Homo sapiens: one gene and its partners. The protein of the gene in region 6 purifies or fractionates together with the protein of the main gene of each other region. This does not show direct contact. Each region holds a gene or a part of one and is shown on either strand. Other genes may lie near its edges.

What was found.
Region 1: the proteins of PHIP (region 6) and COPS4 purify together in Homo sapiens (affinity purification with mass spectrometry, with the first as the bait; one large-scale study listed by BioGRID). This does not show direct contact.
Region 2: the proteins of PHIP (region 6) and FOXP4 purify together in Homo sapiens (affinity purification with mass spectrometry, with the first as the bait; one large-scale study listed by BioGRID). This does not show direct contact.
Region 3: the proteins of PHIP (region 6) and SUPT16H purify together in Homo sapiens (affinity purification with western blotting; 2 studies listed by BioGRID, with this or other methods). This does not show direct contact.
Region 4: the proteins of PHIP (region 6) and GCDH purify together in Homo sapiens (affinity purification with mass spectrometry, with the first as the bait; one large-scale study listed by BioGRID). This does not show direct contact.
Region 5: the proteins of PHIP (region 6) and XRN1 purify together in Homo sapiens (affinity purification with mass spectrometry, with the first as the bait; one large-scale study listed by BioGRID). This does not show direct contact.
Region 7: the proteins of PHIP (region 6) and BCKDHA purify together in Homo sapiens (affinity purification with mass spectrometry, with the first as the bait; one large-scale study listed by BioGRID). This does not show direct contact.

What each region holds. Positions count from the first base shown.
Region 1 is NC_000004.12:83,048,683-83,052,182, forward strand, and holds part of COPS4 (COP9 signalosome complex subunit 4), read left to right. Parts: intron 1-483; coding exon 484-635; intron 636-1,198; coding exon 1,199-1,302; intron 1,303-3,500. UniProt on the Homo sapiens protein: Component of the COP9 signalosome complex (CSN), a complex involved in various cellular and developmental processes.
Region 2 is NC_000006.12:41,552,881-41,556,380, forward strand, and holds part of FOXP4 (forkhead box protein P4), read left to right. Parts: intron 1-3,500. UniProt on the Homo sapiens protein: Transcriptional repressor that represses lung-specific expression.
Region 3 is NC_000014.9:21,374,020-21,377,519, reverse strand, and holds part of SUPT16H (FACT complex subunit SPT16), read left to right. Parts: intron 1-3,500. UniProt on the Homo sapiens protein: Component of the FACT complex, a general chromatin factor that acts to reorganize nucleosomes. The FACT complex is involved in multiple processes that require DNA as a template such as mRNA elongation, DNA replication and DNA repair.
Region 4 is NC_000019.10:12,897,330-12,900,499, forward strand, and holds the end of GCDH (glutaryl-CoA dehydrogenase, mitochondrial isoform a precursor), read left to right. Parts: coding exon 1-99; intron 100-373; coding exon 374-534; intron 535-1,456; exon of another isoform or gene 1,457-2,011; coding exon of another isoform or gene 2,012-2,056; intron 2,057-2,138; coding exon 2,139-2,212; 3' UTR 2,213-2,370; coding exon of another isoform or gene 2,371-2,414; 3' UTR 2,415-2,670; downstream 2,671-3,170. Other genes in the region: SYCE2 (synaptonemal complex central element protein 2), read right to left, coding at 2,012-2,056, 2,675-2,791, 3,131-3,170. UniProt on the Homo sapiens protein: Catalyzes the oxidative decarboxylation of glutaryl-CoA to crotonyl-CoA and CO(2) in the degradative pathway of L-lysine, L-hydroxylysine, and L-tryptophan metabolism. It uses electron transfer flavoprotein as its electron acceptor. Isoform Short is inactive.
Region 5 is NC_000003.12:142,417,038-142,420,537, forward strand, and holds part of XRN1 (5'-3' exoribonuclease 1), read right to left. Parts: intron 1,845-3,500; coding exon 1,778-1,844; intron 1,573-1,777; coding exon 1,467-1,572; coding exon of another isoform or gene 1,433-1,466; exon of another isoform or gene 804-1,432; intron 193-803; coding exon 103-192; intron 1-102. UniProt on the Homo sapiens protein: Major 5'-3' exoribonuclease involved in mRNA decay. Required for the 5'-3'-processing of the G4 tetraplex-containing DNA and RNA substrates. The kinetic of hydrolysis is faster for G4 RNA tetraplex than for G4 DNA tetraplex and monomeric RNA tetraplex.
Region 6 is NC_000006.12:78,935,255-78,938,754, reverse strand, and holds part of PHIP (PH-interacting protein), read left to right. Parts: 3' UTR 1-3,222; coding exon of another isoform or gene 3,223-3,294; 3' UTR 3,295-3,500.
Region 7 is NC_000019.10:41,404,318-41,407,817, forward strand, and holds part of BCKDHA (2-oxoisovalerate dehydrogenase subunit alpha, mitochondrial isoform 1 precursor), read left to right. Parts: intron 1-3,500. UniProt on the Homo sapiens protein: Together with BCKDHB forms the heterotetrameric E1 subunit of the mitochondrial branched-chain alpha-ketoacid dehydrogenase (BCKD) complex.

The DNA of each region.
Region 1 (3,500 bases), on a different chromosome or scaffold from region 6:
CCAGGCTGGAGTACGGTGCTGTGATCTCGGCTCACTGCAACCCCAGCCTCCCAGGTTCAAGCGATTCTCTTGCCTTAGCCTCCTGAGTAGCTGGGACTACAGGTGCCCACCACCATGCCTGACTAATTTTTTTTTTGTATTTTTAGTAGAGACAGCGTTTCACCACGTTGGTCAGGCTGGTCTCGAACTCCTGACGTCGTGATCTGCCTGCCTCGGCCTCCCAAAGTGCTGAGATTACAGGCGTGAGCCATCGCACTGGCCTATTTTTACTGTTTTTGTGTGGTCATTGTGTAATCAAGTATTTCAGCATAAGGAAAACTGATGATGTAATATAAAATGATAGGGGTATGGAAATCCTTGAATAATGCATTGAAGGCTGTACTAATATAGATTGTTGTTAGTATTAATTTTAAGTAAAGGTTGATTGTTTAATGACAATTTATCAGCTCATGTTTTCTTATCTTTTTTTTTTTTTTAAACAAGTGGTAAATGAGAATGTCAGTCTCGTGATCTCGCGGCAGTTGCTGACTGATTTTTGCACACATCTTCCTAACTTGCCTGATAGCACAGCCAAAGAAATCTATCACTTCACCTTGGAAAAGATCCAGCCTAGAGTCATTTCATTTGAGGAGCAGGTAAAAATCTAGAGAAGTGGTTTTTTAACTTGAGATAGCAGCAGTTATTTTGAGAATCTGATATTAGTAAATTCTTAAAGGAGATAATCATCCAATTTCATTTTTGACAAAACAGTGTGCCAAACGACATTTTATGATGCAAAATCAAGTAAATATTAGGTTGTTACAACTCCAACTGACATTTGCTTATAAAGTAAAATTTGATTTTGTGAATCAAATATTGCTCTCTAGACAATTTTTTAAAATCAGTAAAATTGGTATTTCAGCTGAAAACACAGGAAAACTCCAGCATCGTGTATGCAGGAACATACAAGCTAAATTTAATGTTTAAACTACAGTATTGTACCATAATCCACATTGCAGAAATGTGTTGCTTCCGTTCACTAGTTTGATATTCTGTAAATGCAAAATTCGTAGGAAAACTTGGGTGGTCTTGATAAACGTTTACTGTTTACGTGGCAGCTTAGTATGTTGAATTGCCACTTTAGAATAACTTTCCTATTTATTTTAATTAGTTACTAATGTCAGTTGAAATAATTTGACATGTATACCTATTATTCCAGGTTGCTTCCATAAGACAGCATCTTGCATCTATATATGAGAAAGAAGAAGATTGGAGAAATGCAGCCCAAGTGTTGGTGGGAATTCCTTTGGAAACAGGACAAAAGTATAGTAAATAGTGGATATTGGATGACTATATATAGGATGTATATAATTGCTCACTTATATTTTTTCTTACATTCTAGTACAGGAAACAGATAAACAAATAAATACAAAATTGTGTAGTATGTTAGAAGGTGATAAGTGCTGTGGAGAAAAGTAATGGGGCAAAGCGGGGACAGGTTGTATGTATATTTAAATAGGGTGATTGGGGTAGTAGGGTGGCCCTGATGTCACTTTATCAAAGACTTGAAGGAGATAAGGGAGTAGCTAAGAGTGATCTGAGGAAAGAATATCACCAGATACTCTTGTTGTTGTTGTTGTTGTTGTTGTTTTTTGTGACGGAGTTTTGCTCTGTTGCCCAGGCTGGAGTGCAGTGGCATGATCTCGGCTCACTGCAACCTCTGCCTCCTGGGTTCAAGCAATTCTCCTGCCTCAGCCTCCCAAGTAGCTGGGACTACAGGCATGCACCACCACACCTGGCTATTTTTGTATTTTTACTAGATTTTCACCATGTTTACTAGGTTTCACCATGTTAGCCAGGTTGGTCTCAAACTCCTGACCTCAAGTGATCCACCTACTTCAGCCTCTCTAAGTGCTGGGATTACAGGTCTGTGAGCCACTGCACCTGGCCGAATATCATCACTAGATACTCTTAGAGGAGATGGCTAGTGCAAAGGCCCTAAGATGGGAGCAAGCTTGAAGTGTTTTCTTAATAAGAGCAAGGAGGCCAGTGTGGATAGAGTAGAGTGAGCAAAGGGGCAAGAGATCAGGGATGAGAGTAGAGAGTACTGGGGACCAGGTTATGTGGAGTTTTATAAGCCATTGTAAGGAATTTGGCTTTTCACTAAGTGAAATGAGGGGGAGCCATTGGAGAATTGTGAACAAACAGTGAAATGATCTGACTTCTGTTTTAAATAATTACTCTCACTACTGGGTTGAGAATAAACTGTAGGCAAGCAGTGATAGAAGTAGGGATATTGGTTAAGAGGCTTATGAGACCAGGTACAGTGGCTCACACCTATGGTCCAAGCACTTTGGGAGGCTGAGGTGGGAGAAGATTGCTTGAGCCCAGGAGTTCGAGAACCACTTGGGCAGCATAGCTAGACCCCATCTCCACCAAAAAAAAAAAAAAAAAATGCTGGGCATGATGGCACATGCCTGTAGTCCTAGCTACTTGGGAGGCTGAGGCGGGAGGATCGCTTGAGCCCAGGAGTTTGAGACCAACTTGGACAACATATTGAGAACACCCCCCATCCCTACAAAAAAATTTTTTTTTGTTTTAAATTAGCTGGGCCTGGTGATATAGTATGGATATGCATCTATACTCCCAGGTAGTTGGGAAGCTGAGGCGAGAGGATTGTGTGAACCCAGTAATTTGAGGCTGCAGTGGGCCATGATTGCACTGCTGTACTCCCACCTAGGGCACAAAGCAAGACCCTGTCTTTTTTAAAAAAGGCTTATACAGTACCACAGATAAGGTGGATGTTGTGAGAAGTATTGAATTCTAGATATGTTTTTTAAGGTAGAGTAAGGATTTCCTGATGGCTTGTATGTAGAGTGTGCAAAAAAGAGTCAAGATAAGCCCTGATTTTTGGCCTGAGCAATTGGAAAGTTGGAGTGGGGAAGAATAGGTTTGTAGGGAATATCAAGAGTTTCATTTTGGACATATGATATCCAAGTAGAAATATGTAGTGAGGAGTTGAATGTATTAGTCTGGAGATTAGAAGAGATATCTGGACTAGATATACATATTTGGGAGTTATTGACATATAGATGAAATTTAAAGCCATTAGATTGGATGAGATGCCCAAAGGAGAGAATGTAGATAGGCAAAAGGACTGAGTATAGTGAGGCCTGGAGCACTTCAACGTTAAGAGGTTGGGACCAGGGGAAGATGTAGCAAATGAGAAGGATTATCCATTGAGGTAAGAAGGAAATCAGAATAATGTGGAGGGTGGTGTCCTAGAAGCCAAATGAGGAAAATGTATCAAGGGCCAGGTGGTGAGCTATGGCATTGATAGGTCAAGTAAGATAAGGAGTACAGGTTAACTGTTGGCATTAGTAGTGTAGAGGCCACTGATAACCTTAACCAGCTGAGTTTTGTGAAATGATAGTGAAAGCCTGATTGCATGGTTTAAGAGAGAATGGGAAGAGAAGATGTGGAGATAGTGAGTATGGGCTACCCTGTGGGGGAGTTTTCAA
Region 2 (3,500 bases), about 37 Mb from region 6:
CCACTGCTGCCAACTTCCTAACTCACTCTTCGGCCTTAGGCATGACCCGTCTTCTCTCTGGGCCTCAGTTTTCCTAACTGTACAGTGGGTGAAGAGGACACCTGCAGCCCCACATCCTCGGGCTCACCATCCTGAAGCTGTGGGTTGGGAGCCAGGCAAGAAGAGACCTGAAGGTCTCAACGTACACCCTCTTTGTTCCAAGGGCATCGGGAGCCTACTTCCATGGGTCCTTCTTGAAAGGGGTGCTGTGGAGCTCGGGGCAGAGGACACTATGACCCATGCAAGTCTCCTCCTTCCCAATTAGGCAGTGGAGCCTGATTAAAAGGGGTGCTGCCTGCCCCCTCCCACCCGATCCCCATCGACGAGATTTCCCTTCATCAGAATCTCACATTCTCCAGAAATTAATTTGATGCCTCATGTTATCAATTAATTGAATCTCGTTGGGAGAGAGAGCTCCGCGAGGTGAGGCGAGCTTCAGCTTGGCCCTTGTGTGCCGCCATCCCCCCTCCCCCTCACACCAGGGCAGCCTTCTCCTCCCCCATTCCTTTTTTTCTGCCTTTCTTTTAATTGCACTTATTTTCTAAAATAAAACCACTGCTCTGTGCCCCTTTGCCCAGTTTGGCTTGGATGGATACCCATGGACTGGGTACTGGCTGGGATTTGCCCTTTCAGAGGTGGGGGCAGGAGGACTTCCCCTCCCCTGGACCCTGTCTGATCTCTCCTTAAGTAAACAGAATCTCACCCTTTGGGAATTTGGCCGTGATCCTGTGTGCTCCAGGGGCTTCTGGTGAGAAACTTAGGAGGACTAGGGGAGGGAGGAAGAGCTGGGAACAGACTGCACCCTAGTTGGGGACAGAGGAGGTAGAGAAGGACCAAGCTAGGGACCTTTTAACCCTCAGGATTTTGTCATTCAGAAGCTGCTGCCCCTGCCAGAACTGATCCATTAAAACACAGGGCAGAGGGCATAGGTGTGTGGTACCTCCAAGCCTCCCAACAGTCAGGTCAGATATCTGCAGGAACAAGCCCTCAGCATTTTCAAGGACACTTGGAAGCCCTTGCTCTGCCCCCTGCATGGAAGATGGGGGAAGGAAGTTCTAATAGGACATCCCTATTAGGAAACCTGGGAGGTTGTTGTGGCAGGTAGAGCTAGGTAGTCACCAGGCCCTGACTGAGGAACTGTGCTTTGCCGTTTCACATACCTCCTTGTTCTTATCCCCACAACAACCCTGAAAGATTCTCCAGGCAGTGGTAATTATCACTCTCATTTGATAGGTGAAGTACCCAGGCCCAGAGAGGTTACCTGACTTGCCCCGAGTCACAGTTAACTGGAACTTGCCTTTCTGAAATGCTGGCCATAAGGGCTGAGGTCACAAGTGGACTAACTTCATCCCTGCTGAGTTTTGTTGACCCACACACAGTTCATTACAATGGTAAATTTCACATAAATATCCCCACTTCTGCTCCTTTTGAAAAACCCAAGCCCTGTCAACACTGAGCCTGCATTTCTGTGTGGAAAGGATGGACTGGGATTGAGTGGCAGCTGCCTCCTCGTGCCCTCCTCACCTGGCCTCCTAAGTGACCAGCCTAGCCCCTGAAGGCATTTTGGTTAGCAGCTTTGACATGGAGATTCACCTGTCCCCAGTATTCCTCAAGGAGAATCTAGTGTGGGACAGTGTCTGAAGGACTCTGCAGGGTCTAGCCAGGCACAGTGGCTCATGCCTGTAGTCCCAGCACTTTGGGAGGCCAAGGCAGGTGAATCACCTGAGGTCAGTGGTTCAAGACCATCCTGGCCAACATGGCGAAACCCCATCTCTACTAAAAATACAAAAGTTAGCCGGGCGTGGTGGCAGGCACCTGTAGTCCCAGCTACTCAGGAGGCTGAGGCAGGAGAATTGCTTGAACCCGGGAGGCGGAGGTTGCAGTGAGCCGAGATTGTGCCACTGCACTCTAGCCTGGGCGACAGAATGAGACTCTGCCTCCAAAAAAAAAAAAGACTGCAGGGTCTGTACAAGAAGATCTCAGAGAGAGGACCTATAAGGACACCCTGACCCAAATCTAATTCCCACACAGCTACTTAATAACTGATGGTGGGATGGGCGCAGTGGCTCATGCCTGTAATCCCAGCACTTGGGAGGCCAAAGTGGGAGGATCAGTTGAGCTCAGTTTGAGACCAGCCTGGGCAATATGGTGAAACCCCCTCTCTACAAAAAATACAAAAATTAGGGTGTGGTGGCATGTGACTGTAGTCCCAGCTACTCGGGAGGCTGAGACCAGAGGATCACTTAAGCCAAGGAGGAAAGGTTGCAGTGAGTGAGCCGAGATCGCGCTACTGCACTCCAGTCTGAGCGACACAGAGTGAGACCCTGTCTCAAAAAAAAAAAGAACTGATGGTTGTGGGTGATTCTTTTTGCCTTCTTTCTACCACAGAGGTTAGGTCTTTGTACCATAAGGCCTTGTGTCTCCGGGGGCCTGTTTCAAGATGAAATCAGCGCATCCCTGCCAGGGTGAGCCCCTCTATGATAAAGTCATCACTTGCCCCCTACATCTGAGGAAATGAAGGGAGGGGCCAAGGCATGTCGGGGCAGGCTGGGCAGAACAGCCAGGGGCCCAGAAATGGCCATACTCAGTGGTTTGTCCCAGGCCCTCTAGAGCCCCTCCTGTGCCCAAAGGAAACCCTGGTGCCAAAGGCACCACCAGAACCAGGCTCCAGATGGCCATTCAGGCCCTGGGCGAATTGCCCCTACCCCTTAACCAGCAGGCCCCCCACATAAGACGTCACTATTTAATTAGCCGTCTCTGATTAACCAAACTTGGCATTCGGCTCCTCTTGCCCTCATCTTTCCCAGCTCCGAATCAATGGCTTTGATATGCTAATTAGGGAGTAATTTAATTTCAAAAGGCCGCAATTAACAAGGGTGTTGTGGACATGCTGTAGTTAAGCGGAGTAATCTAATTTGCATTAGTAACAAGCAGGGACTAATTAGAAGCTTAATTAGACACTTAGATGGCTCTTATGTTTACTTTCTTAATGAGATGGAGTGGGATCTTTGGTTCTCTTTCTTTTTTTCCCCCTGTATTGTTAATTCTTTTTTTTGGTCTGTGTAGTAGGAAGGGGTATTGAGGGAGGCCACCTTGCCAGGGCCTGTGGGAGCGTTTCAGGGATGGAGCCAGTAAAAGGTAAGGTGGAGGGTGGTGGTAGGGGTAAGGGAAGGCTTGGATTCCAGAGTGACTCGGGGAGTTAGGACGCGGGGAGGAGCACTGGTTTAGGAGTCAGGAGAGCCACCTGGTTTCAGTTTGGCTCAGTCACTTAGCAGTCAGGTAACCTTGTCAAGTCTTTGGCATCTTTGAAGTGTGGTTCCATCCTCTGTCAAAATGAGCGCAAAATTGCATGGGGGAGAGAGGAGGGAGGGGCTATAGGAAAGCACTCTTGGGGACTCTGTGAATGTTTTTTTTTTTTTTTTGAAATGGAGTCTCGCTCTGTTGCCCAGGCTGGAGTGCAG
Region 3 (3,500 bases), on a different chromosome or scaffold from region 6:
CTCACTTTTGGTTAATAATATAGTTAACCAAAGTCAACTCTATTGGCTTTGTTAATGCAGTAGGTATAAAATTCTGTGTTGAAAATCATTTTTTGCTCAGAATTTTGAAGCCATTATTTGGCGTCAAAGACTTCAGTGTTACTTTTGAGAAGGCTGATATGATTCTATTTCCAGTATACATACATAGCCTGTTCTCTCTGAAATTTAGAATCATCCCTTCTGTTTTGAAATTGCACAGCAATGTGCTTTGATATGTCTCTTTTGGGGAAATCCTTTTAGTCTCAAGCTCATATTCTTCAGTCCTAGGATGGTGCATTATTTGATCATTTTGGTCCCTGCATTTCCTTAGTGATGTCTTTTGTTTCTGAAATTCCTATTCAGTAAGGTTTAGACCTCTTTGGTTAAATCTGTTCATTGTTGATCTTTTTTTTTTTTTTTTTTTTCTTTTTCTTTCTTTGAGACAGTCTCACTGTCGCCCAGGCTGGAGTGCAGTGATGCAATCTCGGCTTACTGCAACCTCCCAGGTTCAAGAGATTCTCCTGCCTCAGCCTCCCGAGTAGCTGGGATTACAGGTGCCTACTACCATGCCTGGCTAATCCAGGTCTTCAAATGGCTAGTTATCTTGCTACTGAAATATGTATTCAAGTGCTTTTACTTAGCCAACCATCATAAATTCACTGCACACAGAAGTGCTTTATTTATAACTTCTTATTTCTTTACATAGAATATTAAAAGACAAATGCAAGGGTTTGGGATTTTATAATGGTAATCATTTTTACTTCATCAAGGACTTTTACGTGAAACTGGCCTTTTTTCCTGAGTGTGTAGTAATGGAGAAGTAGTTTGGCGCCACTACCTTGACTCATACAAAGGGACTAGCAGTTTTAAGTGCCATTACTATTTCACTATTGGTGAGAACTAATGGTAAAACTTTTTACCAACCTGAAGGAAAACATTTCTTACTGAAAATCAATGAGAAAAGGCATATAATTTCTATGTAGTGACTTCTTTGCATAATATATTTTGTTGTGGTAGAGAAATACAACAGAACACTCAGTTGCTATCATATATCCTTATTAACAAGCAGAAGCCTTAAAAATGTGGAAGAGTCTTATGTATGCATTTATCTTGACTTTATAGGGGAAGTCAGAATTATAGCTCAGAATGACCAGTGTTTTGGCTTTATAGAGCTATTGAAGAGTATCTGATGGTTGGAGAACTCACACATCTTGATTTCAAAACTTACTACAACGCTGTAGTAATCAAAACATCACGGTACTGGCCTAAGGATAGGCATATAGAAGAGTGGAATAAACGTGAAAATTCAGAAATAAATCCTCACATTTATGGTCATTTAATTTTTGACAGGGATGTCAAGATAATTCAATGAGAAATGAATAGTCTTTTCAACAAATGGTGTTGTAATAACTAGATATTCAATGTAAAAGAATGAAGTTGGGTTAGTCCTCAGACCATACAAAAAAATTAATTGAAAATGAATCATAGACCTAACTGTGACAGCTAAAGCTATGAAACCCTTGTAGAAGAAGTATAAAGTAAATCTGAGTGACCTTGAATTAGGCAGAACCTTCTTAGATATGACACCAAAAGCACAAGAAAATAGATAGGCCAGGCACAGTGGCTCACACCTGTGATCCTAGCATTTTGGGAGGCCAAGGCAGGAGGATCACTTGAGGTCAGGAGTTCAAGACCAGCCTGGCCAACATGGCAAAACCTAGTCTCTGCTAAAAATACAAAAATTAGCCAGGCATGGGGCAGTTGCCTGGAGTCCCAACTACTTGGGATGCTGAAGCACGAGAATTGCTTGAACCCAGGAGACGGAGGTTGCAGTGAGCCGAGATCGTGCCACTGCACTCCAGCCTGGGGGATAGAGTGAGACTCTGTCTCCAAAATAAAAAAGAAAATAGATAAATTGTACCACTTCAAAATTAGAAACTTTGGTGCTTCAAAGGACACTATCAAGAAAGTGAAAATAAAATGCACAGAATGGGAGAAAATGTCTGCAGATCCTGTGTCTAGAATATGAAAACTCTTACAGCTCAATAATAAAGCAACAACTCAGCTACAAAATGGCAGAGGATCTGAACAGGCATTTCTCCAAGAGGCATACAGTTGTCAGTAAACATATGAAATGATGCTCAGCGTCATTAGCTATCAGAGAAATGAAATCAAAACTACAGTGAGGGCCGGGCGTGGTGGCTCATGCCTGTAATCCCAGCACTTCAGGAGGCCAAGTGGGGGCGGATCACTTGAGGTCAGGAGTTCAAGACCAGCCTGGCCAACATGGTGAAACCTCGTCTCTACTAAGAAATATAAAAATTAGCTGGGCGTGGTGGTGCATACCTGAAGTCCCGCTACTTGGGAGGCTGAGGCACAAGAATCGCTTGAACCTAGGAGGCGGAGGTTGCAGTGAGCCAAGTTTGCACCACTGCACTCCAGCCTGGGTGATAGAGCGAGACTCTGTCTCAAAAGAAAAAAAAAAGCAGGATACTAATTTACACTCATTATATGGCTGTCATCAAAACGACATAAAAACTGTTGGTTAACGTGGAAAAATTGGAACCTTGATACATTCTTAGGAATGTGAAATAGTGACTAGTGCAGTCATGGTGACAAACAGTCTGATGATTCCTCGAAAAGTTACCATATGACCCAGCAGTTCATCTCCTAGGTATATGTATACCCAAGAGAAATGTCCATACAAAACATATTCAAATGTTCATGGCAACATTTTTTACAATAGCCAGAAAGTGAAAACCCAAGTGTCCTGCAGCTGATGAATGGATAGATAAAATGTGGTATATCTACACAATGAAATATTCAGCAGTAAAAGGGAATGAAGTGTTGATACGTGTCACAACACAGATGAGCCTTGAAAACAAGTGAAAGAAGCCAGACACAAAGGCCACATTTTATTTGATTCCATGTATATGAATTGTCCAGAATAGACAAATCCATAGAGACAGGTTAGTGGTTTGTCTAGGGCTGAGATGGAGATAGGGGAGTTGGGGAATGATTGTACTCAAGGACATAGAGATTAAAATGTTCCAAAATTGTGATGGTTGCATAATTCTGCTAAAAATCATTACATTGTATGCTTTTGAATTTTATGTGAATTCTGTCTCAATAAAACTTTTTTAAAAAATAAAGAACTCCCGTCTCTCCATCAGCCAGAAAGGACATTGGTATTGAGGTTGACAAAACCTACAAGGACAAAAACTACCATGGCTTCCAGTGCTTTCATGAAACCTCAGATATGTGGCCTTCTGGCCAGGCATCTGTGATTTCATGTTGTTGAAGTGTTCATTTTGCCCTGGGGTTACATCTCTCTATTAAAATTTCTGTGGCTGAACCAAAAAAGAAGGCATATGTAGATTTCTGCATAAATTATGACTCCTTGAAAGATTCTAAGATGAAGGTGGCTTATCTTTGAGAGTGCAAGATGATTTTGGAATATAAAAAATTAGTTTGGCCCAGGC
Region 4 (3,170 bases), on a different chromosome or scaffold from region 6:
GAACCAGCTGATTCAGAAGAAGCTGGCAGACATGCTCACTGAGATTACCCTGGGCCTTCACGCCTGCCTGCAGCTCGGCCGCTTGAAGGACCAGGACAAGTAGGGGCTGTGTGGTGGGGGCGGGGGGATGGCAGCGGTGGCTGGAGGACCTTGTGTCCTTCCTGGAGAGAAAGGTCCTTCCTGCCTGGTGGCCCTGGGGACCTGAACCTTCTGCTGTCCCTCTTGTCCTTGATGGGCTGGGCTGAGGACAGCCCCACTGGTCCCTCATTGGGAGCTTGGCTGCATCAGGGAATCCCCACCCCGGGCTAGGTTTGCTTGGAGCATCGGGATGCCAGGATCCCCAGTCCTTGTTACCCTCATGTGCCACTCCCAGGGCTGCCCCCGAGATGGTTTCTCTGCTGAAGAGGAATAACTGTGGGAAAGCCCTGGACATCGCCCGCCAGGCCCGAGACATGCTGGGGGGGAATGGGATTTCTGACGAGTATCACGTGATCCGGCACGCCATGAACCTGGAGGCCGTGAACACCTACGAAGGTAGGAGCTGGACCTCAGAGGGCTCACTGAGGCCTCAGTGTCTGGGGAGGGGGTACAGGGAGGTGGGACGGGGACAGGTCTGAGTCCAACTCCACCTATCACTAAGTGACAGTGTGACCTGGGGCGAGCCTTACCCCTCTGTCCCTCATCTGGAGTTACTCACATGGGGACTGTGGAAGTGAAGTGCTTCATGCAGCACACAGAGGCCCCATCAGGCCTTGCGAGGGGCTCCCAGCTCTTTCTCCCACATGCTCGGGAGGAGGGATGTTCCTGAGACAGGTAAGCTCCGAAGGCAGCCCAGGGGTGAGGCCCGACTCCTAGCAGGCTGGTGGACGCAAGGGAGTGAGCGAAGCTACACGCAGGAATCAACGCTCCATTTTGTTAAGAGACAAAAGTCATCTTCAGATGACGGTGTTTGCACCCTGTAACTGATGGTGATTTACATGGGGGTCCAGAACCCCTTGCTTGGTGGGAAGACAGATGTGGAAAAAGATACTTAAAAAAAAAAAAAAAGTGCAAACCCAGCATGCGCTATGTAGAAATAGAGGGAGGTATGAGGACCCCCCGGGCAGAGATGCTTCCAGACAGAGAGAACAGCAAATGCAGGAGGGGTGCCTTCCCTGCGCACCTTGCAACCCCAGATCTTGTCTCTATCTGGCATCTGGGGGGTGGGGGGATCCTACAAATGTGAGAATGACCCTGAGGACAAGCAGCGGGCGCCATGAGATGGTTTTATGCAGAGAAGGGATGAGTCAGATTTGGTGCTTTAGGGGCTCGGCGCAGTGGCTCACACCTGTAATCCCAGCGCTTTGGGAGGCTAAGGCAGGAGGATTGCTTGAGCCCAGGAGTTAGAAGTTATGATGAGCTATGATCACCCCACTGCACTCCAGCCTGGGTGACAGAGTGAGACCCTATCTATATTTAAAAAAAATAGGTTTGTACTTTAGGAAGTAAACAGAATTGGCTCTAAAAAGGAGGCTACAATCTGCCTTCTGCTTCAAGGAGCTGGGGAGGAGCAAAGGATGAGACACCAGGGCATGGGGTGTGGGATTCTCTGGGAGAGGCGGCTTCAGATGGGCAGAGGTCAGCTGAGGCAAGTGACTGCTCTTCCGATGTGCTGTCCCTCCTATCCCTCCCGAGGGTAAGAAAGGGCTTGCTGTGTTTCCTTGGAGCTCAGGGGTGCTTTCAGCCTCTGTGGCAAGGAAGCGTGGCCAGGTTGAAAATCAAACATTTAATAAACTGTGGGGCTGGGGGTGGGGAGAACTTGCCAAGGGTGGGGAGCACGAAGCCTGGGCCTATGGCAGGGGCTGGACTTGCTACATTTTGGGAGTTCAGCACAAGGAGCTTTGGGTTTTTGTTTTTTTCTGCCAAGATGCATTATAGAACCATGAAAAACAATTTCTCAGTGTGGCCCAAATGGTGGCCTCACAGTCTTCTCCTGGAGACTGTCACTAAGGCGTGAGTCTCCCGGCAGCTGTCAGCATTCACCATCTCTGTTGGTCTGTACTTCTGAAGCAGTGGCCTGGGGATACATGAAAATTGATTTTAAAGGGAAGTTGTGAGCTATGAAAACTCCAAACCGACTCTGTATTAATCTTGTCCAGGTACACATGACATTCACGCCCTGATCCTTGGGAGAGCTATCACGGGAATCCAGGCGTTCACGGCCAGCAAGTGAGCCGCTCCATCAGGGGCCCGAAACTCTCAAGCCCCTTTCTGGAGAGATGCCTGGCTGGACCGTAGGAGCGCTGTGCTCTGAGCTTAGAAAGGGAGGTGGCGGATGGAGTGGGAAGTGAGAGACACTGATTTTTAAATATCAAAATTTCCCTTCTGAAGTCGTTCAGATGTGTTCCTTAAAAAGAAGATGGAATTCTCTGTAGAGCGTCTCAATCCACTTTTAACCATGGATGAGAGCAGACTCCATTTACCCTGAAATAGCAGCTTCTCTTGAGAGGAGAGTGACATGGAAGCAACTCCGTCTGCTGCAGCTGACCCCCTCACACTGAGTTCACAGTGCGCCCTCCCTCCCTCCCATCTGGGGGTAGTGCCTTATGCTGGGTGTTGGAGCAGAGTGAGGGAGAGGAAAATAAAGACCTGCACATCTGACCCCAAGGTGTCAGGCCGGTTTACTGGTAACCACCTGAGAAGTAGTTTCAGCCACAGAAGAAACGAACACGTCTGGGGGCTGTGAGTTGCCGGGACGTGGTGGGGACTTTCCCCTAGAGTGGTCTGGCCCCCATCTGAGTCTTAGGCTCTGCTGTAAAAAAGAAACCCAGGTTAGCAGTGCCGGTCTGTGCCAGGGCTGTGGGCAGAGGGGATGATTTCTGAGTGGCAGGGGTGCAAGGGACTTTGTCCTTTCTGTCACCACAGAGCTGCTCATACAACAGTGGGACATGACAACGGTTTGGCTTCTCAGCTCAGACACACCATGTTATAGGGGATCACAAACAAGATGGTGAGTGCACCAAGGGCTTTGCAGGGACTGTGGCCTGGCGGGGTCAGGGCTGGGTGCCTGGTTTCTGTTCACATTTACTCTTGGCTGGGCCATCCCTGTCCTCTTCCTCAGGCAGCGCCCCCCCTGTGAGTTTACTCATACCTCAGGCTGGAGACACAGGTCTTTGTACACAGTCTCCACG
Region 5 (3,500 bases), on a different chromosome or scaffold from region 6:
TTACCATAAGTAGAAATAAAAGGAAGTGCTTCCTAAATAAGACTCTAGTAGAATGAATCATTATAAAAAGACAAAACTTTATTTTTGTTTTTATTCTCTCACCAGCTCCAGGACTGAACTCCATGATAGTAATAGTGCAAAATCCACTGTATTGCCTGAACATAACATGCAGCTTGATCAGCCAGAAAGTCACTGAAAATAGAATATTTTCATTATAACATATTTTCTGAAGACAGGCCCGTGTCTTTAGAGCACGGTATCTGCTGATACAACATTTTACCTCAGATGATTTATTTAATCAATGAATTAGCTATTTATGGCTAAAAATTATAATCCTAAAAACTCCAAAATATTTTTAAAAATTACATCCTGTCACATGACAGTTTTCCTAAACCAACTATCAAAATAGATAAGTCTGTTATTCATATTTACTCAGTTAATGTACCACTCCCTTGGTCCAAAGGTTGAAGATTTACCCAATGAAGCTTTCCATAGTGACACTACCACTCTCTTAAATAGTGGGGGTGAGACGGGAGAAAGGGATGGGAATCTTCTTTACATGGGATGATATCTGAGAGAAGCAAAGCAGCAAATCAGGAAGATCTTAAAATTTGGTCACAGAAGCTAGAATGCTTTCAGAAGTGCTGTATGTGAACAATATTCCTTCTAATCCTTTCTTTGTCAAAAACCAAATGCCATCTTCTAAGTTTGGGTAAAATAAGTCTTCAAATCATCAAAACAAAACAAAACAGAGCCCTGGGCTAAAGGCAAAAATATTCACTTAGAAATTACATAACTACATATTTCTGGGAGGTAGTTTTTTAATATGAAAAATATTGCTTTTTTATTATAAAAGAACTATTTCCTCAGGAGTGAAAATCTGGACAATGAAGAACAGCATTTTTATCATCTTATAGCCATCACTTTTACATTTTTAGTGTTTCAGTCTTTTATCTATATCTAGGTTTTTTTAAGGTTAATGAGAGCATACTGTATGTATGATTTCATGTCTTGCCTTTACAATTTGTACTTAATAATGTACTATAAGCATCCTTCCAAATTGTTATGAACTTTCTGCAAGTACCAGTTTAGCAGTTCTGCAGATTCCGGAGATGGAAGAGGTGACAGAGATGGTGACTGTAATGAAGAAGCAGTGGCCAATTATGATGAACCTTCTTATTGGACATTTAGATTATTTCTAATTTTTTTACTATTATAAACAACTTTGTAACAAAAATCCTTATACATAAGGATCATTTTCTCTTCAGCAATTTTTATCACAGGAATATAATACAAGTCAGAATTAATACCATCTTCTCCAAAACCAGACTAGTTGAAACATACACAATAATTCATGAAACCAAAAAATCCTTTTTCTCCCACTACTTCATCAAAATCATATTTTCTGAATAACTGCAAAATCTAATTTTTTCTATTTTAAAATAAAAGCATTGGCAAAAACGTACTCAGATACTACGTCAACCCCCATCTTCGTCATGTAATATGTTCTTTTATATTGTCTAAACTCAGTTTCAAATAGGTCATCATCTTCAGTCTCATCTTCTAAATTATCTGGGGAAAAAAGTCAGAAAGATAGTGACTGACAATTATGAATAGCCTGTTTTTCCACCTAATGATTTGATAAATGCATATCCAAGTTGATGCTTATATGCTATCACAGAAATCTGTTCCACCCAAAATTAGTAATAATAAATAAAAGGTATAACAATTATCCTGTCAAAGTAGTAACATATCAAAACACATACTTCATACTTACCCTTAGAAGTTATCATTTCGCCTTCATTTTTGTCTAAAGCAGTCCAACACAGAGAATTTTCCTGGCCCTGTAAATTGTAAATCAACATAAAATGAATGGCAAGATACATTTCAAAATGAGATGTCATTTCTCTTCCATGCACCCATTTGCTTTTCTATAGTTCTTCCATGTTATAACATCCTTCATATCCTGCCCATCTGTTTTTCCTCCCTTGTGATCTCAATCCTTTCTCTCCTCTATTCTCTGATTTCCTGTCTACTGCCAATGACTCTCTTTAGTTCTTCCTACTCCCTTATCCCCATTTCCTTTCTTTCATCCAACTTATGGCCTCTACCAACTTCCTGTGTCTGGGCTATTCCTGCACAGTGTCTCTAAAGTTAGCTGCATATGGCTGGAAGACTGGTGAAGTTTAAGTACTGAATTGTGGTGGGGGAGCCAGGGATTACTGACAGGTAAGTTTTGTGTGTACAGGTTCCCAAAAAGTTGCAGAGCCCGTTTTCTTAGGGGGGGAAAAAAAAAGACACACACACACACACAAAAACCAGTGGAATGCAGACTGACTGCTGCCAAGTTCCAGTGAGGAAGAGCTAAGCAGCGAGAAGGACTACACTAGAGAAAACAAGGACAGTTGCCCCTCCTGGAGCAAGAGTCATTAAGTTTGAACCTAAATAGAACCAGTACAGCAAGGAGAGTAAGAAGCTCAACAGAATCTTGGCCGGGCACGGTGGCTCACGCCTGTAATCCCAGGACTTAAGGGAGGCCAAGGTGGGCAGATCACGAGGTCAGGAGTTCGAGACCAGCATTACCAACATAGTGAAACCCCGTCTCTACTAAAAATACAAAAATTAGCTGGGTGGTGGCGCGCACCTCTAATCCCAGGTACTCAGGAGGCTGAGGCAGGGGAATTCAAGCGAACCCAGGAGGTAGAGGTTGCAGTGAGCCAAGATCGCGCCACTGCACTCCAGCCTGAGTGACAGAGTGACATGCTGTCTCCAAAAAAAAAAAAAAGAAACTCAGCAGAATCCAATAATTACAGAGAGGCTGAAGAATTTTTCACAAGAGGTTTACTTTTCAAGTTAACACAAGACATTCTTTGGAGATTATCAGAGATGCTCTGCAGGGTACTATCATATTCTAATTGATTCTATTATTCATTTATTAAGCACATAACATTTACTAGATATTGTGCTATTAGGCTGGCACAAAAGTAATTGTGGTTTTTGCCATTACTATTAACTTAGACTATTGTATTTTATATGTAAATCATTTCTAGAGAAAAATCACTGATCTAGTTAATGTCTCATATCATTAAACACTATAAATATCCACATTTTAAAAACTAGTCCATTGTTTTAAAATAACAATTTTTTTTTAATTAAAAAAAAATTGCCAGGGGAAAGTGTGAATGCAGTCCTCCACTACCATAAGTCACGCAGTTCAGTTTCCCACATTTGGCGAAATCGCAGGGCATCAGCACATCCAGAGTGCAATGGATAAACCTCGCCCTGGGAAAACTACCTTCATGATCATGGTATCCTCCCTGTCAGGTTTTAAATAATTGTTTTTCTTTTTTATGAGACAGAGTCTCACTCTATCAGCCAGGCTGGAGTGCAGTGGCTCAGTCTTGGCTCACTGCAACCTCTGTCTCCCAGGTTCAAGTGATTCTCGTGCCTCAGCCTCCCAAGTAGCTGGGATTACAGGTGTGTGCCACCACATCCAACTA
Region 6 (3,500 bases):
AGATTTTGCAGTTGAAAAATAATTTCAAATTTTTCAGGTTTTTTGTATATTTATTTTTTTCTAACAAATATATTTAACTATAAAATTAAAATTCAGTAGTTAAACTCTTCATAATGCAGAAATGGATGGCTTGATTGTATAGAAAAATGAGTCTTTCAGTTACACCATTCTTGAAAATAATAGTGTATGTTTGAAATTTGTCATTAATTAGTTGCTTTTGAAGGCAATCTATTTGAAATATGTAATTTCCTGATGTTATCTGCATTGTGTTAAGAAAAAAATAATAGGCTATAAAATCAATTTTTGTAAAAAAAATGTACAGTTTTAAGTTGTGTACAGAAAAAGGAAGAGCGTACACAGTCTTAGAGTGGAATATACCTCTAGTACAGTGTATGTGTTAATTCCAACTCAAGCAAAGAAATGAGTATTTACCATCTTTCCTATAACATGTAAATGTATTATTCCTGTTCTACAGACACTGTATATTTATGACCTTATTTGGACATTATTAGACACTGGTTTCTTAGTAAAGCACAGTAACTTGGATCAGATTCTTTGTAACCGAAACACTTAAACATGTATTAGTAATACCAATATATTTAGATTTTATATTTTTATAATTTAGCTTCTATGCATTACAGAAGTTGAATTAAGAAATTTAAGTCATCACCATATTTTTGTTTTCTTTACCACTTGGGAAAATAATCCTCTTTGAGGCAGTAACACTATGTATGTACTGTTAATAGGCCAGAAAGAAATATTGGCAGTTGTCTTAGGTAAGCAATAAAAACATCTCCAATTTACTGAAAGTTCAGAAATATAACTCTTACATGCATGGAAAGTGTAAACCAATTTAGGTATTTCTAAGTACCCAACCCTAGTATTCTCTCCCTCAACTCCAACATTCTCAAGTCCCAGATGAAAAGTTTCAGTGGAGCATTAGTTTAAATATTTAGTCTAATCAGAGACTCACAGCCCTGGGCAATAGATACATAGCTTTTTAAAATTTTATCCTTTGTGACCTGCTATAGTGGCATTGGACTATTTTCTGCATGTATTATAAACTAAAGATTGGCCTTATTTCAATTGTTTTTATTGCACAACTTCACTACAAATTTAAAGACTGCTGGCATTATTATAAAACTGTCTTCCTCCAATCCAAGTAAATAAGTATGTGGAATATTTGTGAGCTGGATTAGGTAACATCTGAGACTTGGGATTGACTAAATTTAGTTATCACTTGGAAATGAATTACATAAGATACAGTAATCAGAGAAAATATCTTTATGCAGCATGTATGTTAACATCTAGAACTGTCCCTCATCTGCAGTGCAGTAGAGGAATCAGACATTTTAAGAAATGTATTCAAATATTTTTATCTTATATGTTAGCAGCATTTACATGTTTTCAGATATGATTTGTAATATAAATTAATTTCTCCAGTTAACAATGTTTACTTCAATTCTGACATTCCATTTTATACATATATACCTACTGTATATCTCTCTCAAATGTCAGCTAGAAGCAACTTTTTCAGTTTTCTATCTAATGAAAACGGATATATTCTGAATGTTTTTGTTACCTGAAATTTATTTTTGAGTAGGTTGAAAGGACCAAGATACTTGAGTGATTAAAGGACTGTAAGTGTTCTGCTTATATGCAGGAGTTACATGATTTTAAAAGTCATAATAGGGGAAGTAGTTTTATCATCTGATTACTCCTATTAACCTAAAAAGTATTTCTAACATAACAGATTGAGCAGTGGTTTTGTTACACTTAGGCAAGAATTTATTTTCCCATTAAAATTTGAAAAATACACTTTTCTTTGCTTCTACCCTTGCAGTTTCCCTTAGTTCCCCTAATTTCCAAGTGATCTGAACTAAAATTAATATTACATTTACTAAGAAACTATTTTTGTTAATTATACTGAGCAAAGTTTGCTCCAAATGAAAAGTCATTACGAACTATGTATAGTACCCAAGAAAAGGTCAAATTGAGTCAGAAGACTGTAAGTACCACTTTTGGCGCTCCAGAGATAAACCTTGTACACACTGCAGTAGAACAGTGAGTAGAAAATATGAGCTATAAATAGATATTATTTTTAGTTTTGATAGCTCTGTGTTGAAATACTTTTTTAATGCAGATAAAAATTATCAGGAAATTAACCTTATGGCACAGACCAAATACTTAGTGCATGGCTGAGTTTCTACAATTCAAGGAGCCAAGAAAATAGGTTCAAGATGGAATATAGTACATGCATATAAGGCAGATGCACACATGCTGGTTACTTTAAGATTGTGTGTGTTGATTAGTCACAATGATAGACTATAACATGAGACAATACAAAGTTACATTTTTGGACCATATTAAAACTGCAAGAAGACAGGGGTCTTACTGAAGATCTTTTAGAAAACTTAAATCCTGTCACAGGATATTTAGACATGTGTAGAATGTAGCTCAATTTTTAAAAAGTAACTGACCTAGAGGGTGAAAGTTGAAACTGACACATTTTCAAATTAAGATTATGCTTATTTTGTACAGAAAACAATGTTTAAACACAAGCAGATCTGTTGTATGTAATAAGTAACACAGAGTTTTAAAACAAATTAATTATTTAGCTTTATTGAAGTTTGTTTTTTTCCTTCCGAACCTGGAGTATCATATTATAAACAGCAGTTTCACACCAGAATAGCAGTGCCCTTTCTTTTTGTACATACTGATTGGACCTTTCTTTACTGTTACGTGGACACTTTCTATGTTAGTTTTGATGCATAATTCTTTGAATCCTTTTATACAAACTAGAATGTATGTGTAAGAATACCTGTCCCTGCAATGTAGTAACTACAAACTTATTTTTAAATAAATAGAAAACTTGTTTTTCTAAGCTATTTTGTAGAGCCTCATGATTTATTATTTGCTTTTTAAAGTTTTTTGGCATCACATAAAGCACTTAGTACATAATCTCAACAAGCTGCTTACCAAAGTGGTCATATGGCAGATACCATTATGTAAATGCTGGTTCATTAGAGTTTCCAGTGCCCTGTGTGTTTTGCAAAGTGTGAAAACTGTCAGTTAAAAGATATTTGGGTGCCGAAATGTAATTTAATTCCAAAACAACTGAAGGTCAAAAACTTATATGCCTTTTTATGTGTACATTTAATAAAACAATTTTATTGATTTCTTACCGTAAGTTACTGTGATGAGTGATAAATACTTCACTATTCAGATACTTTCGTAAGAGATACATTTCAGTGGAACACTTTGCATAAATATTTTCTCAAAAATGTGCAATTTCTGGGAAAAAAGGAATGATGGAAAGAAGGTTATTGCAGTTTTCCTAGAAATTTTGTCAGATTGGCATGCATTTTTATTGACTAAGAATCCCAATTTTAGCATGAAGACCATTAGATATGAATACATAAGGCCATAACATTTCAAATTAAGCACATGGAGTGATTTGTAATTTTGTGTTAATTTCTCCCTAAGATGTTTTGTTAAAA
Region 7 (3,500 bases), on a different chromosome or scaffold from region 6:
CTTGCTCTGTCACCCAGGCTGGAGTGCAGTGGCACAATCTCGGCTCACTGCAAGCTCTGCCTCCCAGGTTGACGCCATTCTCCTGCCTCAGCCTCCCGAGTAGCTGGGACTACAGGCGCCCGCCACCACGCCCGGCTAATTTTTTGTATTTTTAGTAGAGATAGGGTTTCACCTTATTAGCCAGGATGGTCTCGATCTCCCGACCTCATGATCCGCCCGCCTCGGTCTCCCAAAGTGCTGGGATTACAGGCGTGAGCCACCACGCCCAGCCTAATTTTATTTATTAATTTATTTGAGATGGAGTCTCACTCTGTCACCCAGGCTGGAGTGCAGTGGTGCGATCTTGGCTCACTGCAACCTCCACCTCCCAGGTTCAAGCGATTCTCCTGCCTCAGCCTCCTGAGTAGCTGGGACTATAGGTGCGTGCCACCACGCCTGGCTAATTTTTGTATTTTTAGTAGAGATGGGGTTTCACCATCGTGATCAGCCTGACAGGCTGGTCATGAACTCCTGACCTTAAGTGATTCACCTGCCTCAGCCTCCCAAATCTGCTGGGATTACAGGCATGAGCCACCGCACCCAGCCATATTATTTCTGTATTTTCATTTGGCTTACCTGTCAACTTGACACTTTTTTGTTTTTTTAGGCTAGTCAGGTGAAGCAATGTGAGTAAGATCACCTGTCTTGATTATAACTTGTGTGTTCAGTGTTTGTCATTCATCCCTCCCTGTCTCTAGCCTTCAGTTCAGGGCATGATTTGGAGCAAATGTTCAGTATCTGTTTAACAAGAACAATCATGAGAAATACTTACTCACTACTTGTGTTTATGAAACATTATGTGCCAGGCACTGGGCTGAGCAATCCACACAGGTCAACTCGGTTAATCCTCATGACAACCCCTGAGATAAGTACTTATACCACCCTCGGTGTACACAGGAGGAAACTGAGGCTCAGGGAGTTTTTCTTTAAAAATTTTTTCTTTTTTTTTTCCTTGAGACAGGTCTTACTTTGTCACCCAGGCTGGAGTGCAGTGGTGTGATCTTGGCTCACTGCAGCCTCTTGGGCTCCAGCGATCCTCCCACCTCAGCCCCTCAAGTAGTTGGGGAGTACAGGTGTGCACCACCATGCCCAGCTAATTTTTTGTAGGGATGGGGTCTTGCCATGTTATCCAGGCTGGTCTTGAACTCCTGGGCTCAAGCGATCCTCCCTCCTTGGCCTCCCAAAGTGCTGGTATTACAAGTGTGAACCACCACACCTGGCCTTAAATTTTATTTATATATTTATTTTTGTAGAGACGAGGTCTCACTATGTTTCCCAGGCTGGCCTCGAACTCCTGGACTCAAGTGATCCTCTTGCCTCAGCCTCCAGAGTAGCTAGAATTACAGGCGTCTGCCACTGCACTTGGCTCAGGGAGTTTAAGTCACATAATCAGGCAGCGGTCTGCTCAGTTAGAGTCCATGCGCTTAGCCATGGTGCCTTCAAGTGACTCCACCAGGGTCACCCCAGTACTTCCTGGGCAGACCAGACCATCCAGAGCGGGCAGGTTGTGCTTTCCTGCATGGTGGGAGAGGACGTGGCATGAAGCTTTGTGTAAATCTGTGCAGCCTCTGCCATTGTAAATCACTGGCCACCGGGACAGACTCCCCCACCCCCTTCCAAAAACTAGAGGAACAGATGGGTGGAGTCGCATCCTTCCTCTGCAGGCATTTGGCCACCCACTCCCATTATGGAGCATTTCCTCAGGACCAGGCACAGCGTGGAGCCCTTTGCATAGCTCACTGAATTGGGGCAGCAACCCTGGGGCTGGGGACTACCATTATCTCCACCAGCCCAGCAAAGAGGGGAGGAGGGTACAGCCGAGACCCAGCTGCAGTATGTGGAGCACACTGGGGTGCCGTGAAGATAGCTGTCCAGCCTCTAGAGGCTGACAGTCCTGCCCTGACACAGTGGTTTGTTCTCAGACTCTGGCCTCCCCTCTTAGTGCCCGTCTGAAGACTTCAGCCTTCGGTCCTCTTCCATCAGCATGCCGTCTCCCCTGTGCCTCAGTCTCCCTCTCTGGAGTATCTGCTGGGGCCACAGTTTGGTTTTATTGTTCTTTGAGACAGGGTATCACTTTGTTGCCCAGGCTGGAGTGCAATGGTGCAGTCATGGCTCACTGCAGCCTTGACCTCCTGGGCTCAAGCCATCCTCTCACCTCAGCCTCCCGCAACTCCAGTATCTGGACTACATGTAAATGCCACCATTCCCAGCTAATTTTTTTTTTTTTTTTTAGATAGAGTCTCACTCTTGTCACCCAGGCTGGAGTGCAATGGTGCCATCTTGGCTCACTGCAACATCCGCCTCCCAGGTTCAAGCCATTCTCCTGCCTCAGCCTCCCAAGTAGCTGGGATTACAGGCACCTACCATCATGCACGGCTGTTTTTTGTATTTTTAGTAGAGACAGGGTTTCACTATGTTGGCCAGGCTGGTCTTGAACTCCTGACCTCAGGTGATCTGCCTGCCTCGGACTCCCAAAGTGCTGGGATTACAGGCGTGAGCCACCACGCCCAGCCTTCCTGGCTAATTTAAAAATTTTTCAGAGACGAGGGTTTTGCCTAGGCTGGACTCACTATGTTGCCTAGGCTGATCTCGAACCACTGGCCTTAAGTGATCCTCCCACCTCAGCCTCCCAAAGTACTGGGATTACAGGCATGAGCCGCTGCACATCGCCACAGTTTGATTTTAGTATCCACTTTAAGGTGCAGTTAGTTCTTCCCAGCTCCTCTTTTCCCTATCTCATACAGTGTAGTCACTTCCCTTTCTCCCACTTCTCACCTTCCTAGATTTTGTTTTTCTCTCTCTTACCAAGTTTTGAGTATGTAATACGTCCCAGATCGGTGCTGAACCCCTGGTGTGAGTTAACTTAGCAACTTTTCACGTGGTGTTCTGCAGCCTTCTTACAGATAAGGAAATTCAGAGAGGTGAAGTGTTTTTGCAGAGAGCCACACAATGAGCTAAGAAATTAGAACCCAGGGCAGTTGAACTCCAGAGCCAGGGAACTTAACAGCCCATTCATGCATTCACTCAGGAATTCCCTCTTGAGTGCCTGCTGTGAAGGCAACCTGGACGCTGTCTCTGCCTTCCTGGGATTGTGGTGTGTGTGGGAGACAGACACGAAACAAAGCAATCTTCTAGGTCAGTGTCTGGCTATGCTGGGTACTCAGAAGGGGGAAGCACTGTGCTGCAAGAGGCCGGCTGTTTCCTCCTCACAAGGGGAGGCCTGCAGTGACATTGCCAGGCCTGAATCTGCCCTGCCATTGGGAGTGTAATTTCCTCACGACTACAAATGCAAATAAATACACACACTGAACATGCTACCCCGCTAGAACTGTGGACAGCTTGTTCACTGCAGTTAAAGGAAGACGGAGGGACACATTTGAGCACGCATGTGTGAGATCCAGCTTGTGGCAAACCCTGCCATTCTTTAACATCTGTGGGAAGTGAAGCCACCATTACTGACC